Linked DNA regions of Homo sapiens. The protein of the gene in region 1 interacts with the protein of each later gene in a pairwise test. Each region holds a gene or a part of one and is shown on either strand. Other genes may lie near its edges.

Region 1 (8,682 bases):
GTCGCTGTCGTCACCACCGCCCAGGTGGAGGAGGGATGTGACATCGTCTGGGGGCATGGCAGTGCCCACGTTCCATGTGACCACAGTGATCCTGAGGGCAGGGGCATATGAGGGTGTAGTCCTGGCACCACTCCCTCACCCTCAAGCTTCCTTTCACAGGACTCCCTGGGGAACTAAATGGAGGCAGGTGTGGGCCAAAGCCCTAAGAAGGACCCACAGGAGGCCCCGAATCCTGTCCCTCTGCCACACTCTCCCTGGGGAGATCAACTGAGAGGCGGCAAGTTCCTTAGGAGGGGATGCTATCTTCTGAGCGTCACAGAGTGGGCCCAGCAACCCCCTCCCCAAAGACTCTTCCTCAGAGAGAGAAGCTGAGGTAGAGCACACCATCCACCCTGGAAGAATGGCTAACCTCAGAGCTAAGCCCCAGCCACCTTTCTTGGGAGAGGGCCCCCTCACCGGAAGCCGGGGTCGCTCTTCCAGGTAGGCTGAGCTGACCAAGGGGAGGATGACAGGGTGGATGTAGAAGAGGAGGTGGTGACTGGGGCTGGGGCTTCTTGGGCCTGAAGGTTGGGGCTCAGGCACCTGCCAGGCCCTGTACTCTGTGTGCCAAGCCTTGGGAGGGCCATGTCAGGGGCTGGGGGAACACAGGGAGAGCGATTCGGGGAGTGGCTTGGGGAACGGCTGGGTGATCGGGGTGGCTTGGGCAGAGGTGGGGGCACAGTCTGGCCTGAGGGGGCCCCAGGCCGGAAGGTGGGGGACAGAAGTCCAGGGGAGTGAGTGCCAGGCTCTGAAGGACCCTGGCCCACATCCAAGGGCAAGGTCTGGGGTGGCCGTGGCAAAACAGGATCCTCAGGGCTGCTGTGGAGGGCCTCAGGCCGGGCTCGGAAGGAGGGGGAGAGCCGAGGGTCTGGGGAGGTTTGGATGCAGGGTGGGGAGCCTGTAGGACCAGATGTCTGAGCTGGAGGCTGGAGATGCCCCTCAGAAGCAGGGAGAGGTCTAGGGGCTGGGGCATCCCTCTTTCTAGCTGATGTCTGTCCCACAGAGGCTGCGCCTGATGCCGTGGATGCTGGAGCCAGGGCCTGTTCCTGAGTTGGAGACAGAACTGGACTGGGCACCGGGGAAGGGGTGGAGGGGAGTTCTGGGGGCTGCTCCTCAGAAGCCAGGGCCAGGCTCAGGCCAGAGGCTGCCAGTGTTGGCTTGGGTCCCACGGAGGCAGGTGGCTCCTGCTTCTGGTCTCTGGAGGTTGGGGCCAGATTGGGCCCCAGGGTGACTGGGGGAGATCTTGGCCCTGCTGAGGCAGGCATCACCAGCCCCAGGGACGTCGGAGCCAGAACTGAGCCTGTGGTCGCTGGGGGAGGCTTTGGTCCAGCTGAGGCAGACATCACCAGCTGGCCCACAGATGTTGGGGCCAGGCTGGAGCTGCGGTGGGCAGTAGCTGTTTTCTGCCCTTCAGGGGTACACAGTGGAGCCAGGATTGGTCGGGGAGATGCCAGAGCCAGCCTCGGTCCTTCCGAGGAAGCTGACATAGCTGCCCGTGGCCCTACAGGTGCCAGAGCCAACCTTGGTTCCGAGGGTCCTAGGGCTGCGTTCTTCTTTGCTGGGAGCTGAAAACTTGAGTCCACCTTGTGGAGGACAAGTCAAAGATTCAGAGTGACCCTAACCAGGGCATTGGGCCCCAACTTCCATATAGACCCTGGCAGAGTTCATCTAGCTAAGAAAGGCACATCTTTCCAAGGAAGTTCTTCCTACTATCTCACTTCAATCTATTCTGCTGCAGGTCAACTTCTGTCTTGGAGGAGATAGGACACAAAACCCTAACCCCTCCTTTAAGTCTGAAACCTCTTTCACAGATGGGGAAACTCAGACCCTGACTCAAATGAGGCAGAGTGTGAACCTAAACCTGAGGACTTGCCTTGCCTTCCTGGCTGGCACCCACACCCTGCCCATTCGGGGCAGCTTCCCTGGGCAACCCTCCCACTGCAGTCCCTGAAGCTCCCCCAGCCACGGCTACTGACCTGACATCCCAGGTCTGGGCACACTGGGGACAGCCTGTTTCTTTTCTTTTTCTATTGTCAAGATACAGACCTACAGGTGCAGCTTGTTAAATACCTCTCCCTTCCTTCATAATGCCCAGAAACCCTCAGTTCCCCACCGCCCCCTAAACATCCAAATCCCTTGGTTACAGCCCTCTCTGTTCTCTTACCCATTCCCAGAGCTCCACTCAGGAGCAAGAGCTGGGAGCTGAGACTGGCTGTGTAGATTCAAAGCCCAGCTCTGTGTGACCTTAGGCAAGTACCTCTCTGCCCAGCGCCTCAGTTTCTCTGTCTGTAAAATGAAGGGATGGGGTCTAGGGTTCCTGGCCACATTATATTCTGGGGAATCTTCATCTCCCATTGTCTGCATTTATGAGCCCAACATTTGCTAGAATTCCATCTAGCCCCGTTGAATAGTCCATCCTCACCAAGTGTGAATCTAGCATTCAGAGCAAGTCCAGGATTCTAAGTTGATCCTGGTGTCACATCTCTCTGTGCCCAGGTTGTGCCCTCTTACATCCTCCACTTTCTCCCCTACCTGAAAGGACAGGCAAGCAGGTATCCCATTTATGTCCGGCAGGTGGGAGGGGTGGGGAGTCACGGAGTCCTGTAGAGACCTATCCTCCTTCCCCATCTATTCTCTCTGATGTCCCCTGTCTCCAGAAGACAGGATAAAGTGTCCTTCACCAAGGAGGGCAGAAGAATGTCTATACTTGCCCCAGGATGGCCCTAGGTAGGGTAACAGGGCGCAGGGAGGCCCTGCCTCTGGAGACGCACTTCTGTTTCTGTCCCGTATCCTTCTCAGTTCAGAGTACCTAAAACTCCATCTCCACCTCCCTTCTCAAACTCAGTTCTTTGAGGTGGCATTTTAGGCACCCTCCTTGGCTCCAAGTGTCACACTGTGTGCCGGCTTCCCCCCAACTATCACACCGCCTCCAGTACTAACAACTTAGCCATCCCAGATGTCACAGTTTTAGTCTTCAGCGACAAGCCCCCTCATTTTGCATTGGCTCAGAGAGGAAAAGCAACTTGGCCAAGGTCACACAGCAAAGGTGGAGCACAGCTGGGTCCTCTGATACCCAGTCCAGGACTCTCCCAAGGGCTCCTGGAGATGGCTAACTTCATCTGTCTCCGGGCATCCTGTCACTGCCCCTCAGCCCCCAGGGTGCTCTCTTCACCTAGCCCCTGCTCGCTGAGCAGAGGAAAGTACCAGCCCCTCAGTCAGGAGCACCAGGGAGCCTGCAGTGTATGTGGGGGGGGTGTGTGGAACCAGGGATCAGGAAAGCGGGGGGCACTGGGTCTCAGGGGTCTTACCTTGGAGGGTGCCCCAGTTTGGGCAACACCCTGGGGCATGGGCAGGGAACCCAGGCCAGCCCGGGTCCCTGGCCTCCTGCTGCCCCTGCTGCTCTGGCCCTCCATGTCTGCAGCCCCCGGCAGCCTGGACTCCCTTGGCTCCGGCTCCAGCTCTACCGCTCCCGGGAACCAGTGATGTCATCAGCCATTTCAACCTGCTGAGAATTTAAAGGCACAGGCTCCCACTTCCCAGCCTGGAAGAGGCCGAAGCAAGGTGGCTACCCCCTGGGAATCCTTCAAACTGGCTGCTGAGGCTGGAACAGCCATGGAGTGGGGAGGGGAGAGTGTACCCATCTGCCTGGCCCAGGTCCCAACTGGCAGCAGGAAGGAGGCTGTCTGTCTACCTTCACCTTTCTGCCGTAGGCCTGGTCAGCCCTTTGCTCCAGGGAGGGGCATTAACACACCTGCCTTAAGGTAGGACAGGTGGTTCAGAGGTCTGCACCCTCTCCAGGGCCTCAGAGACAACTGAGTTCTTGCCCTGATCCTGTGACCTTCCTGGCTCCCTGCCAGCTCAGAGCTTGCCCCGGCCCCCACCCTTGCCCCATTTTCAGGTCTTGGTGCCACCCTCTCCACTCCTACTGCCAGTCCCAGGCTCTATTCTTCCCAACCCAGAACCAGACACTCAGGCTCCAGCCACTGCAGTCTTTTCCCATCTCAGGCCTCAGCACCAGCCCCTCCTCTTCTGCAGACACCTAGCTGCCCTCAGATGTCCCCACAGCCAGGCCTAACCCAGCCCGGCTTCTGTCAGCTTTCTTCTCTCCAGTATTCACTGGGTGTGGTTTGGGAGGGGAACTTGCTCAAGGTCACCTGGTGAACTGAGAAGGTCTCCTGTGTTTCAGTGAGAAAACTTAGTGACCTAGGATGAGCACAAGCCCTTCGAGCTATCTGGGGGAAGGGAACTTGGGTGGAGAAGGGCCCAGCAGTGGGGTAACAGACTGACAAGAGAGTTACAAACAGGCCTGAGAATTGCTACAGCCAGGACCCAGCCCAGGACATGGTCCCCAACAGGCCTACGGGAGTGTTTGTTGAATGAATAAATGAATTAGAAGAGTGAATGGGTGATGAGGGTCAGATTGGGCTGGGATGGCTGTGGGATCTGTTTCTCATGGCTTAGAGAGGAGTGATCCCACCCACTTTAGGCAGAAAGTGTTCAGAGTTGTGTGTGCAGAGCTCCCTGTTAACCAACATGGAGCATCTGCATGGGCCTGTGCAGTCTCCTACATGAAGGCAGATGCCTCACTTTCCTCTCCTGAAGGCACTTCCTACCTCTGCTTGACTGTCAGTAGGTCTAGTCTGTATTCTCAGGCCAGCATCTCTGCTGGAATTTGCAGGGGCAGAGACTCAGGCCATATTAGAGTGTTGGGGTAGAAAGGTCTTTGGACAGCGATAGTGGAGATGGTGACAGTGGTGACGGGGAAGGCGACTGTGGTGATGGATGTGATGATGTATGTAACTGTGATGATGGAAGTAGGGGGCTAGCAGTGGTTGTGGTGAAGGTGGTGGAGGTGATGGTGATGGCAAAGGTAGAGGTGATGATGATACCAATACTGATGATGGTGTTGTGTCAATGAAAGAGGTAGTGTTGGAGTTGGAGGTGACAGTCAGGGAGGATGTGAGAGTAGACCTGGTGGTGATGCTCAGGTTACCAGAAAAAGGAAGATTCGAACTCATCCTGTCTTATCCTCTGTCTCCTGTTTTACAAATAAGAAAATGGGAGCCCCCGGGCTGGGGGAGTACTGGCAAAGTGCGGGTAATCCCAGCACTTTGGGAGGCTGAGGTGGGCAGATCACCTGAGGTCAGGAGTTCGAGACCAGCCTGGTCAACATGGCGAAACCCCATCTCCACTAAAAATATAAAAATGAGCCGGGTGTGGTGGTACATGCCTGTAGTCTCAGCGACTTGGGAGGCTGAGACAGGAGAATTGTTTGAACCTGGGAGGTGGAGGTGGAGGTTGCAATGAGCCAAGATCGTACCACTGCACTCCAGCCTGGGTGACAGAGAGAGGCCCTGTCTCAAAAAAAAAAAAAAAAAGAAAGAAAGAAAAGAAAAAAGAAAAAGAAAATGGGAGCCCCCAAGACTACCCAGCTTTTCATGCAATCCTAGAGGGAATGATGGGCAGATCCAGGCCTCTGGGACCAGTCCTAAGGCTCAGCCATCTAGGGCTGGGACAGGGGCATCAGTGCCCTTTGGAAGCCAGGCAAATGTCATGCAAATGTGTCTGCAGAGGGCTCCTCTGCCTCAGGAGGGCAACCCAGGATTTCCCACCACCCGCTCCCTGAGCTCAGACCCTGCAGGGGACTTTGTTTCTGGCCCTGCCACTGACTTACTTGAGGAGGTCACTCTGATTCCCAATTTGTGTAAGGGAGATTAAAACAGCAGACACCTCCTAAGTTTGCTGGTGAAGATTCAACAGGATAATATATATGAAATGTTTAGCATAGAGCCTGCCTGGCACAGCAAGCTCTCCATAAAGGTGGCTGCTCTGTATTTATCATCATCATCATCACCACCATTGACTTCAGCCTGCCCATGTGGTGGATGCTGAAACAGGCTGAGGGTGGTTACTCTCCTGGGAGGACAAGGAAGGGGCTCTGAGACCCAAGCCTGGTCTTGTCAGGAGAAGGGGGTAGGGGGCGGACCCCAGCTGAAAAGGGAGTGAGTTGGAGCTATATTTGAGCTCCTGGTGTGATGACTAAGGAGGTTGATAACAGGCTCTGGGGCTCAGGGCGGCAGGCTGGGGGCAGCTGTCAGGGAGAACCGCCCCCCTGGAGACGGCTGTCTCTGGAGGCCCTTTCTGGCTCCCTCCTTGCCCTCACTCTTGGTGGGGGAGGGGGGTGGGCGTACTGAGGCAGGGTCCAGGGCTCATCCAGCCCACTCCTGGAAACTCAGTGCTGTCCTTCAGGCTGTGTGGGTCAGGGATAGGAAGGCAGGATGCCAGTGATAGATGGAGTATCCCAGTTACTCTCCATAGTAACCCTGTGAGGTTGGTAATGAGGCCCCCATTGGACAGAGGAAGAAACCGAGGCCCAGGGATTACACAGCCAGTAGAGAGAGGACAGAGCATGGAGCTCCTGGAGAGGCAGTGGATAATTCTTCCCGACAGAGGAGCTGACTGTTGAACCCCTTCTTTGAAGGAGAGTCCGTGCTGCCAAATCGAAGAAGAGAAACGCCCTGGCTGGAAAGCAGAGAGAACAGCAGGTACAAAGCATGGATGGGGAAGGAAGGTTCTGGCTGTGAAAGGATGAGAAATTTGGACATGTACCCTCCTGCCCTTTGGTTCGGAGTAAACATGAGCAGGGAAGGGAGAGAAGTCTTTCCTGTCTTTTTCCTCCTCCTCTTCCTCGGTTCACTTTCCAGGGGCACCTGAGGATGGCAACGGTACCGAGGGTCTGTCCTCCTTCCTTTCTCTCCCTGGTCACCCTGACCCAGGCCCGCCATGAGGGAGGTCATGCTATGGCTACCATCTGCAAAGGTGTAGAGGGTGATACAGGATATTGTGGGAATGTGAAAGAAGGGGTTATCTGGGAGGGCTTCCCTGAGGAGGAAGTATACAGGGCACAAAAGAGCATTTCTTCTCCCAAGGCTTCACTCCAGGGTTTCTTGTTGGTAACAAGCTTCACATGTTATGTCCCCAGCACTTCATTCTCACCCTCTGAGGCAGATGTCATCCTCACTCCCCATTCTGCCACTCAGGAAATGGGCTGGAGGAGGAGGAGTGACTTTCCCAAGGTCACACAGCTGGGGCTGAGCTCAGGCCTCTCTCCTCCTTCTCTTCGGCTCCCCCTCCTCCTAGGCAGCCCAGCACCCGCTGTCAGCTGCTCTGAAGTGAGTGGCTATTTTTATTCTGGTGCGAGGGGATCTCAAGCAGCAGAGCCATGTAGGTTAGAGGCTCTAGGACACCCGGCCTCAGCAGTCCAGGGGAAACTTCCTGCAGCCACCAGACCCTGCTAAGCTTGCCTGGGGGCTCTCATTTCTTGCAGACTGACTTGCTCTGGGCTCCTATGCCTCCAGAAGCTTCTTTATTGGAGCTCAGAACAGAGCATAGAGCCAGATTAAGCCCTGGTCATGGTCCTGATCCTCCAACTTGAACCCGACTCTTGGTATTGACTAAGCCTCTACTCCAGCTCTTGACTGAGCTCTGACATCACCTTAGAATGAACCCTGACTCTAGTCACATACTGATCTAAGCCTGAATTAGGCTGATCCCAACTTGAGACCTTAGTTCTGGGCCCAGATCAAGCCCTTATCCTTCTCTAAGACTGAGCCTTAGTCACAGACTGAATTCTAGCCCCAGCCCAGACTAACCTTTTAGACTGACTCTGGCAGAAGAGTCAGACTAACCTTTTAACCCTGACTCTGGCAGAAGACTGAGCCCTAATCTTGGTCAAAGACTGAGTCCTGAGCCTAATCATTGACTGAACTCTGACCACAGACTGAATTCTGACCCTGGATCATGCAATTCTGGTCACACACTGAGCCCTAAACGGAAGACTGTGCCCTGAATCTGGTCACAGACTGAGCCCTGAACTTAGTCATTGACAGAGACATGACCCTGGTCACAGACTGAGCCTGGCTCCTGGTCACAGACTAAAGACTAAGCCCAATCATGGACTGAGCCCTGTATCTAGCCCTAGGCTACAGACTACTCAACTAAGGGCTGACCTAGACCCTGTCTGAGCCTGACCCCATCACAGACTAATCCCCAACCTTGGCCCCACTTGAGGAAGACTGCTGGCCTAAATTACATGCTGCCACATAAGAGGCATGGATTATGGGCAGAGATCTGTCTTGGGAGATCTTGGGCTTCTCATGCTGCTGATGCCACAGTGTTCCTTCCTGGTACTGTTATGGTCACAGTCTCCACCACTGGTTCCACTGGCTGGTTGGTCAACCCTCAGCAGCCCAAGCTGTGGCCTTTAGGGGCCACAGCATCCAGGCTAATGCAATGAGAGTGGTTTGGTGGCATCTGTCCAGCAAACAACCAGGGCCCATGGGGTACTGGGGTTTGGCTCTGTCAGCAGCAAGAACGACTCCGTGGGGCCTCTGGCTTCAGTTACTCTGAGGCCCTTGCTGGGGTAGGGGTTGGAGTAGAAGGAAATAGTGGGGTATGTCCCATTATTTTCGTAAATAAAGTTTACTGTTTGTGTTTAGGTAATCCATGCCCATTACACAAAACACAGAAGGAAAACATTTACCTATAATTTCATCCACCAAGAAATAATCGTTCTGACTTATTGGTTTGTTTCCTTATAGATATTTTTTGGTGGGGGCGGGGGTCTAGGCATATATATTTATA
Region 2 (6,676 bases), on another chromosome or scaffold:
AACTGGAAAGATAGAATTGTCATTAAGTGAGTTGAGAAGTCTAAAAAGCAAGTCTAAGAGTTCATAAAAGCAAGCTTCAGGAAGAAGATCGGGAATTCAGGTTTGGGCATGCTATATTTGACATGCATTTGAGCTATTTAAGAAATACCCAAATGAATATATCAAGTAGACAGCATATATGCACCCAAGTTCCGAGTAAGAGGACTGGAAAAATAATTTGGTAACCATCATCTTTTAAATGGCCATGAACCTAAGCACAGTGGTCATTGATGGAGGTAGTGCTGGCAGAGATGAGTCTCAGGAGTGTCCCCTAGAGCACCTTAATATTACTTAGTTGGAGAGATGAGAATATTCAGAAGAGGATCCAGAGAAGGGGAGTCCAGAAACATGGGAGGAAAATGAGGAGACTGTGGTATCCTGGAGGCCACAGGGAGAAAATGTTTCAAGGAGGAATCTTCTGCTTCAAATGTGTGCTGATAGGTTAAATAAGATAGTAGCTGGGAAAGAATTGGCTGGAGTTTAGCAAAGTGTAGTAGAGAGATGGGGGGAAAAGCAAAATTGAATTTCGGCGACATTAAGAGAAAATAGGAGAATGGGAATTGGAGTCCACTAGTACAGGCAACTTTTCGTGAACTTTGCTGTAAAAGGAGCAGAAAAATGGGCAGTAGCTGGGAAAGGACATGGTAAAAAGGACTTGTTTAAAGGTAACAGAAATCATAAAATAATAGCATGTTTGCAGGCTGATGAACTGATTCAGTGAAGAAGGAAAATTAATAACAGGATAAATAAGGGAGAAATGACTCAGTATTTGAATAGGCAGAGAACTTGAGGCCTAGTGCATACATGGATAGTTAGCCTTGGGAGCAGGGAAACAGCTCTTATATAACATAATAGGAAGGCAGGCAGAACATATGGGGAAAGTGCTGTTAGGAAGAACTACTAGAGGAACTTACGGAGGTTTTCTTCTAACTATTTTATTCATAAATTAGGAAATGAGATCAGCTCAAGGTGAGGATTGGGGAATAGGGTTAGAAGTTTGTAGAGAGAAAGTAGAATATATTCAATACTTGTCTAAGACAGTGGGCAGTTACATGACCTTAGGCAGGACTTCTTGGCCTTTGAGGCTGGGTTATTCTCTGCTGTAGGAGAGGCTGACATTATAGAATGTTGTGTGCATCCCAGGCTTCTACCCACTGTGTGACAGCAGCAGCCTTTCCCCTTTTTCTCCCTCAATTGTGACGACCAAAAGTGTCTCCAGATATTCCCAAATGTCCTCTGGGGCCAAAACTGTCCCCAGTTGAGAGCCACCAGTCTAAGGAAATGTAGTATAATTGTCAGGAAGCATTAACAGCCAAGTTAAGGTTCATAATCATGAATTTAACATGAGATCATTCAGCATTGTTGTGTTATATTCAGCTGTGCAGGTGCAGGCACAGAATACGCAGAAAGTTAGGTTTAACCAGGATTGGGGTTTTGCCAAAGGAGTACAATGAAGAGACTAGAGAAGAGCCAGGGAGTTATTTTAATAATTGATCATGGCATTTATACCAGGCGAGGATAAAAGTGAGGAAAGATGGTAGGAACACTAGACTGTAGGTCCTACTGGGGTCAAGGATTATAGAGATTGGGGTTCTAGAGAGGGTGATGTAATATTAGGGATTTTCAAAAAGAACCTACTCCCTGTTGGTGTCTAGGAAGGAAATCTCAGATGGAGGAAGTGCAAGATGAACTCATCCACAGACTGACCATTGGTCGGAGTGCCGCTCAGAAGAAATTCCATGTGCCACGGCAGAACGTGCCAGTTATCAATATCACTTACGACTCCACACCAGAGGATGTGAAGACGTGGTTACAGTCAAAGGGATTCAACCCTGTGTGAGTCTCTCTGTGAATACTTTGCAATTCTGTGTGTACAACATGCATTGTTTTCAATTTGCTTAGTTAGATGTCACAGATAACTGTTATAAAACATAAGGGCACAGACTGCATACTTTGTGCCATACTCAAGAACTCACTATAGCTGTTCATAGCTGAAAAAGAACTAAAATAAGCATAAATAATTATTCTGATGCCACCCCATTTTCGAATTGGTAGTATCTGTTCATTATTAGTTCTTTAAGCAAACTATTGGCAGCTTTGAGGCCCAGTAGCTTCTTTTCTCCATCAGATTACTGTGATGTAACCTAGGTAGGACCATGGTCTTAGCTGAACTTCCTAGACCACATAGGACATAGAGCATAAGCTTTCCTCCTGCTGCAGGATATAGTGTCTCTGGCAAATAAAAAATAGTGTTACCTAGCATCAATTATAATCTTAATAGAACTTTTCCTTTAATAAACCCATAGTAAAGGTTCTATTTATCTATCTAAAAGTCTATAAACATTTCATATGTATTTGGCACAATGAACTATTAGAATAATACATATTCAAGGGACCTTGACATATTATAAACTCACCTACCCAGCATGATTGAAAAATGAGATACAATGGTTAGTCAATTGCCAGGTTACTAGAAAGTTATCTATTCCTTCTATAAAACACCAAATCCCAAGAATTGGTATTAAACAATGACCCTAAACCGAATTGGCTCATTTTTGATACTTTGTAATTAATAATCTGTATAGCCTCAGGGTCATCATCATGAAAGAAACTTGTCATTGCCCTAACTATAAAGACTGTAGTGGCATTTAATAAGGGTTCCAGGGTATGGAACGCTTAGAAAAGAGAAGTTACTAGCAGGAACAGATAATTTTCTCCTTTGTTTGTAGGCAATATTTTTAATGCTCAGTTTCTTTTTCCTTTTTTTTTTTTTAGGACTGTCAATAGTCTTGGAGTATTAAATGGTGCACAACTTTTCTCTCTCAATAAGGATGAACTGAGGACAGTCTGCCCTGAAGGGGCGAGAGTCTATAGCCAAATCACTGTACAAAAAGCTGCATTGGAGGTATGACTTGTCAACCTAAGGTGGTGTTTTTCTGCAAATTGAAAGCTCTGGAAACAACTATTTATGTCCATATTGGCCAATTTCCCTTTCTTAACAGAGCTGAATTAAATTTAACTCTGCTTTTGTAAATTTGTCACTGAGATCATCAATGACAGTTTCCAGAAGGTTAATTTGTTATAAATGCTCATATGATGTGAAGCTTGAGCACATACTTTTGGAAACTTGACAAAAAGCATAATGTTCTCATTTTATATGTATTGACTAATTCTATAGGAAATTTAATTTTGACATAACAATGGAAATTAGCTTCTGAGTGAGTAAGAGCCTTAAGAGGCCAGAATCCTTGCCTATTCTTAATATTTTTTTTTTTTTGGAGATTCTAATAACGTATAGGTTATAAGATTGTAAAACCCTGGCTGTGTGTGTTAGGTCTAGTAATACATCTCAATAATCGGGAAAGATACATTAGGTAGAGATCACTGAAAATAGAGAGCCTGGAAAAGTATTTAATCACAATGGTCTGTATGAAAGCAGGAGAGTCATGTTTTCTAGATTGCTTTATACTTAAGCTTCCAATATCCTATTTTAGACTTAAAATGTGCTATATACGGGTAGTAGTTTCCAACTGTTACATCTCACAGCTCTTAATAGTTTCATGAAAATTATACTTGGACTCAAATGAAAGAATGTAGGCTTTGGCATGAAATTGATCCATAATCATCTCTAGCAGGTATATTCTATAAATTCAACAGTTAAATAATTCAGGGTAAAATCACTTCATGCGTATCACCCCGTAGCCATTCTGAATCAAGAGAAACCATATTTCCCTTGGAGGTTTTCCCTACAACATTGATCTTGAAGGCTCCATATTAAAGTTTGATTTGATTGCTTTCCATATGTTGAATATTAATAAGGATTATATATTTTTCTCAAGCAGTTTTATTACCACTATATTTAATTTTGTTGAGAGTATATAATTACTTCTTCAAGGTATGTTAGAAAATGCCATATTCCTAAAATTCTGAATTCCTTCATCCCACACCTGCCTATCATTATTGTCATTTGCTGTCACCACCCACTTCAGGATGGTCTCTTGCTTCTTGTTCTCTTCCTATTCTCTGCATGGGAACTGAGGCAGAGGCTGACTACCTGAGGTTCTTCATGTTCCTCAGCCACCTTCTACCACCTCACCCTTTCCTTGGATCTAGTTAATCTTTTAGATTATTTGCCTGTGTTGCCAGAGACTTCTGTTGATGGGAAAGGAGAAAAGCCAGCATGGTCGGAGGGTCAGAACTATATGGAGGGGAAACTGGGTGAATTCTGAGCCCACTCTGGCCTGAGTTAAAATCTTCTAAAGGCAGATCAGTATCTTGTTTGAGCCCAAAAGAGTCCTTTGATAATTTACCATGTTATTATGCTTATTGTACACATTTCCTCTTTCTCTCAGCAAACCTAGAGTACTATACATACATTATTGATTTATCTTTATCATGTTCAAATGAAAGGCCTGGTGAGTGAATTGCCTTAACAGACTTTACAAAATGAAAAATTATTAATGTGATATATTAGTGAAGTGCAGAAGCTTCACTTAAAAAGTAGAGCTGTTAGCTTTCCTAAAGAGATACTAGAAGAAAACCACAGTAGAATTTTATCCTGAGCCATTTCATGATATGACCTGCAGCCTGCACAAGTCAGTAACTATCTTGTCTGAACTGTTTATCTTTCAGGATAGCAGTGGCAGCTCCGAGTTACAAGAAATTATGAGAAGACGACAGGAAAAAATCAGTGCTGCCGCTAGTGATTCAGGAGTGGAATCTTTTGATGAAGGAAGCAGTCACTAATTTGTTTGTTTGTATTTAAACTCCATTGTTTTTGGCATTATTCCAACATGCTTTGTTTTAAGAAGCCTTGAAGGGAATGTCAGATTCATTTTTCTTGATGTAATTTATCACCATAAAAAAAAACCCATGCAAACCTGAGTGAGCACAGGATTTGCTTCTAGGCCCATTATTTTTATTAAAACTGAAAAAATTTAAACTGAATTTTTTGACCTTGGAAAATATTTTTCTTACTTTACCAAGGTGAAGTTTCCTTAATTAGACTAATTATTTTATCCCCATCCCAGGGTATAAACAGGAATTGTTTTGATAGTGGTGGAGTTATTCACTGCAACAAAGCAACAATGTTGTCCATGATTCAAAATCTAAGCAGTTTCGATTTTGCCTGTGAATATGGTGTCTGTCATTCAGGGCATAGCTCACTGTAGGCTAGCCTCTGCTTACTTAAGTCTCTTCTCTGACATACTCAATGGAAGAATATTTAGATTTATTTAAAGTTCTTAATGCCAACAGTTTAAAAAAAAATTAAAACATTTGAATGAACTGTAAAGTACAGCCATACCTTGGACATGCAAATATAAATCTATGGAGCATTCTCAAGAGAGTTTGTCATGGCTCTGTTGATTGCAACTCCTTGTATAGCTTGTATTTTGATTTAGTTTATATTCTGCTTATTATGTATACTGTGTTCTTATATATGAGAAAGCACAAATGCGAAAGAGGTCATGTCTTCTCAAAATCTAGCAAAGGAAGTAGTCTGCATTGGTGTGCATTACAGTATTTTGCTTAATGAAAGCCTCAGTTCTGAATGTTGATATGAGTAGTTAAAAGGAAGTGGGGCCATTTTATGTGTTTATCTGTGTCAAGTATTTCTGGTAATAAGAAGCACTTAATTTACACATATTTTAATCCTGTGAAAGATTCCACATAGAGAAAAGAAAGATACCTAACCTTCAACAAATGTTATTTTTGGAAACACAATTTTTGTCATTAAATGTTATATTATTTCACATATATAAAACAGATGTTATGTAAGAATGTTGTATATTTTAACATAAATCATTTAGAGAAATTATCTAGATTCATTAATTTTCATAGTGCCTTTTTCACATGAGTCAGCTGGAAAGTCTGCAATAAACAGTATTTGCTGTCTGTTAATAAATGGTTTCTGTCTCATTAGCAAAAAGGATCTGTGCTAGATCGGCTGAGGATTCGAGTTGAATGCAATGGGAAAAAGTAGAGATCCACATTTTAAAAAAACTATATATTATTCTATTTCTGAGTGGGTAGAGAAACTCTAGAATACTTTTTTCGGTTGTTTTTCTTCTTTTCGCCTCTTGTTTCATCATCTTTTCCTTCTACCATCTAGTCATATTTGGTAATGGTAATGGAACTAATTTACACTGCGCTTACGATTGCTAAATGCTTCCATATAAATGCTTTCCTGGATATTTACAACAACTCTATATGAATTATTACAGATGAGGAGATTTAGCTTCCTAGAAGCTAATTTTCCCCAGATCCTGAAGGATGTGGGAGTTTCTCATCTTCTATCTCTCGGTCTCTCTATAACACTGCCCTTTGGATAAAGTGGAACAAACATGAGCATGATAAAGGTGAATTAGTTTAGATCTTTTACATTTCATAAGGACTGATACATATGTATAATTTAGCCTTTATTGAAAGGGATAAGATGAAAGAAAATAAGATCCAAAAGTTAAGATAACCTGCGTGTAAAATAGCAGACGGATATGAAAAGAATTGGTGTAATTTACATCTTTATGCTATAAGATGCCAAAGGAATGTATCACAGAGGTAGTAATTGCAGAAAGCAGTCACATCAGCTAAGGATGTGGGGACAAAGAGAAGAGGTTCCTGGAATTTAGAATCTTGA

What was found. Proteins that work in one complex are often made in the same cells at the same time.
Region 2: the proteins of INPP5J (region 1) and EPS8 interact in binary tests that used the Homo sapiens proteins (3 or more experiments, as listed by UniProt).

Annotation. Positions count from the first base shown.
Region 1 is NC_000022.11:31,117,785-31,126,466, reverse strand, and holds the start of INPP5J (phosphatidylinositol 4,5-bisphosphate 5-phosphatase A), read right to left. Parts: upstream 3,502-8,682; 5' UTR 3,453-3,501; coding exon 3,348-3,452; intron 2,572-3,347; exon of another isoform or gene 2,462-2,571; intron 2,326-2,461; exon of another isoform or gene 2,204-2,325; intron 1,623-2,203; coding exon 457-1,622; intron 174-456; exon of another isoform or gene 92-173; coding exon 1-91. UniProt on the Homo sapiens protein: Inositol 5-phosphatase, which converts inositol 1,4,5-trisphosphate to inositol 1,4-bisphosphate.
Region 2 is NC_000012.12:15,619,426-15,626,101, reverse strand, and holds the end of EPS8 (epidermal growth factor receptor kinase substrate 8), read left to right. Parts: intron 1-1,694; coding exon 1,695-1,875; intron 1,876-2,814; coding exon 2,815-2,944; intron 2,945-4,671; coding exon 4,672-4,785; 3' UTR 4,786-5,968; downstream 5,969-6,676. UniProt on the Homo sapiens protein: Signaling adapter that controls various cellular protrusions by regulating actin cytoskeleton dynamics and architecture. Depending on its association with other signal transducers, can regulate different processes.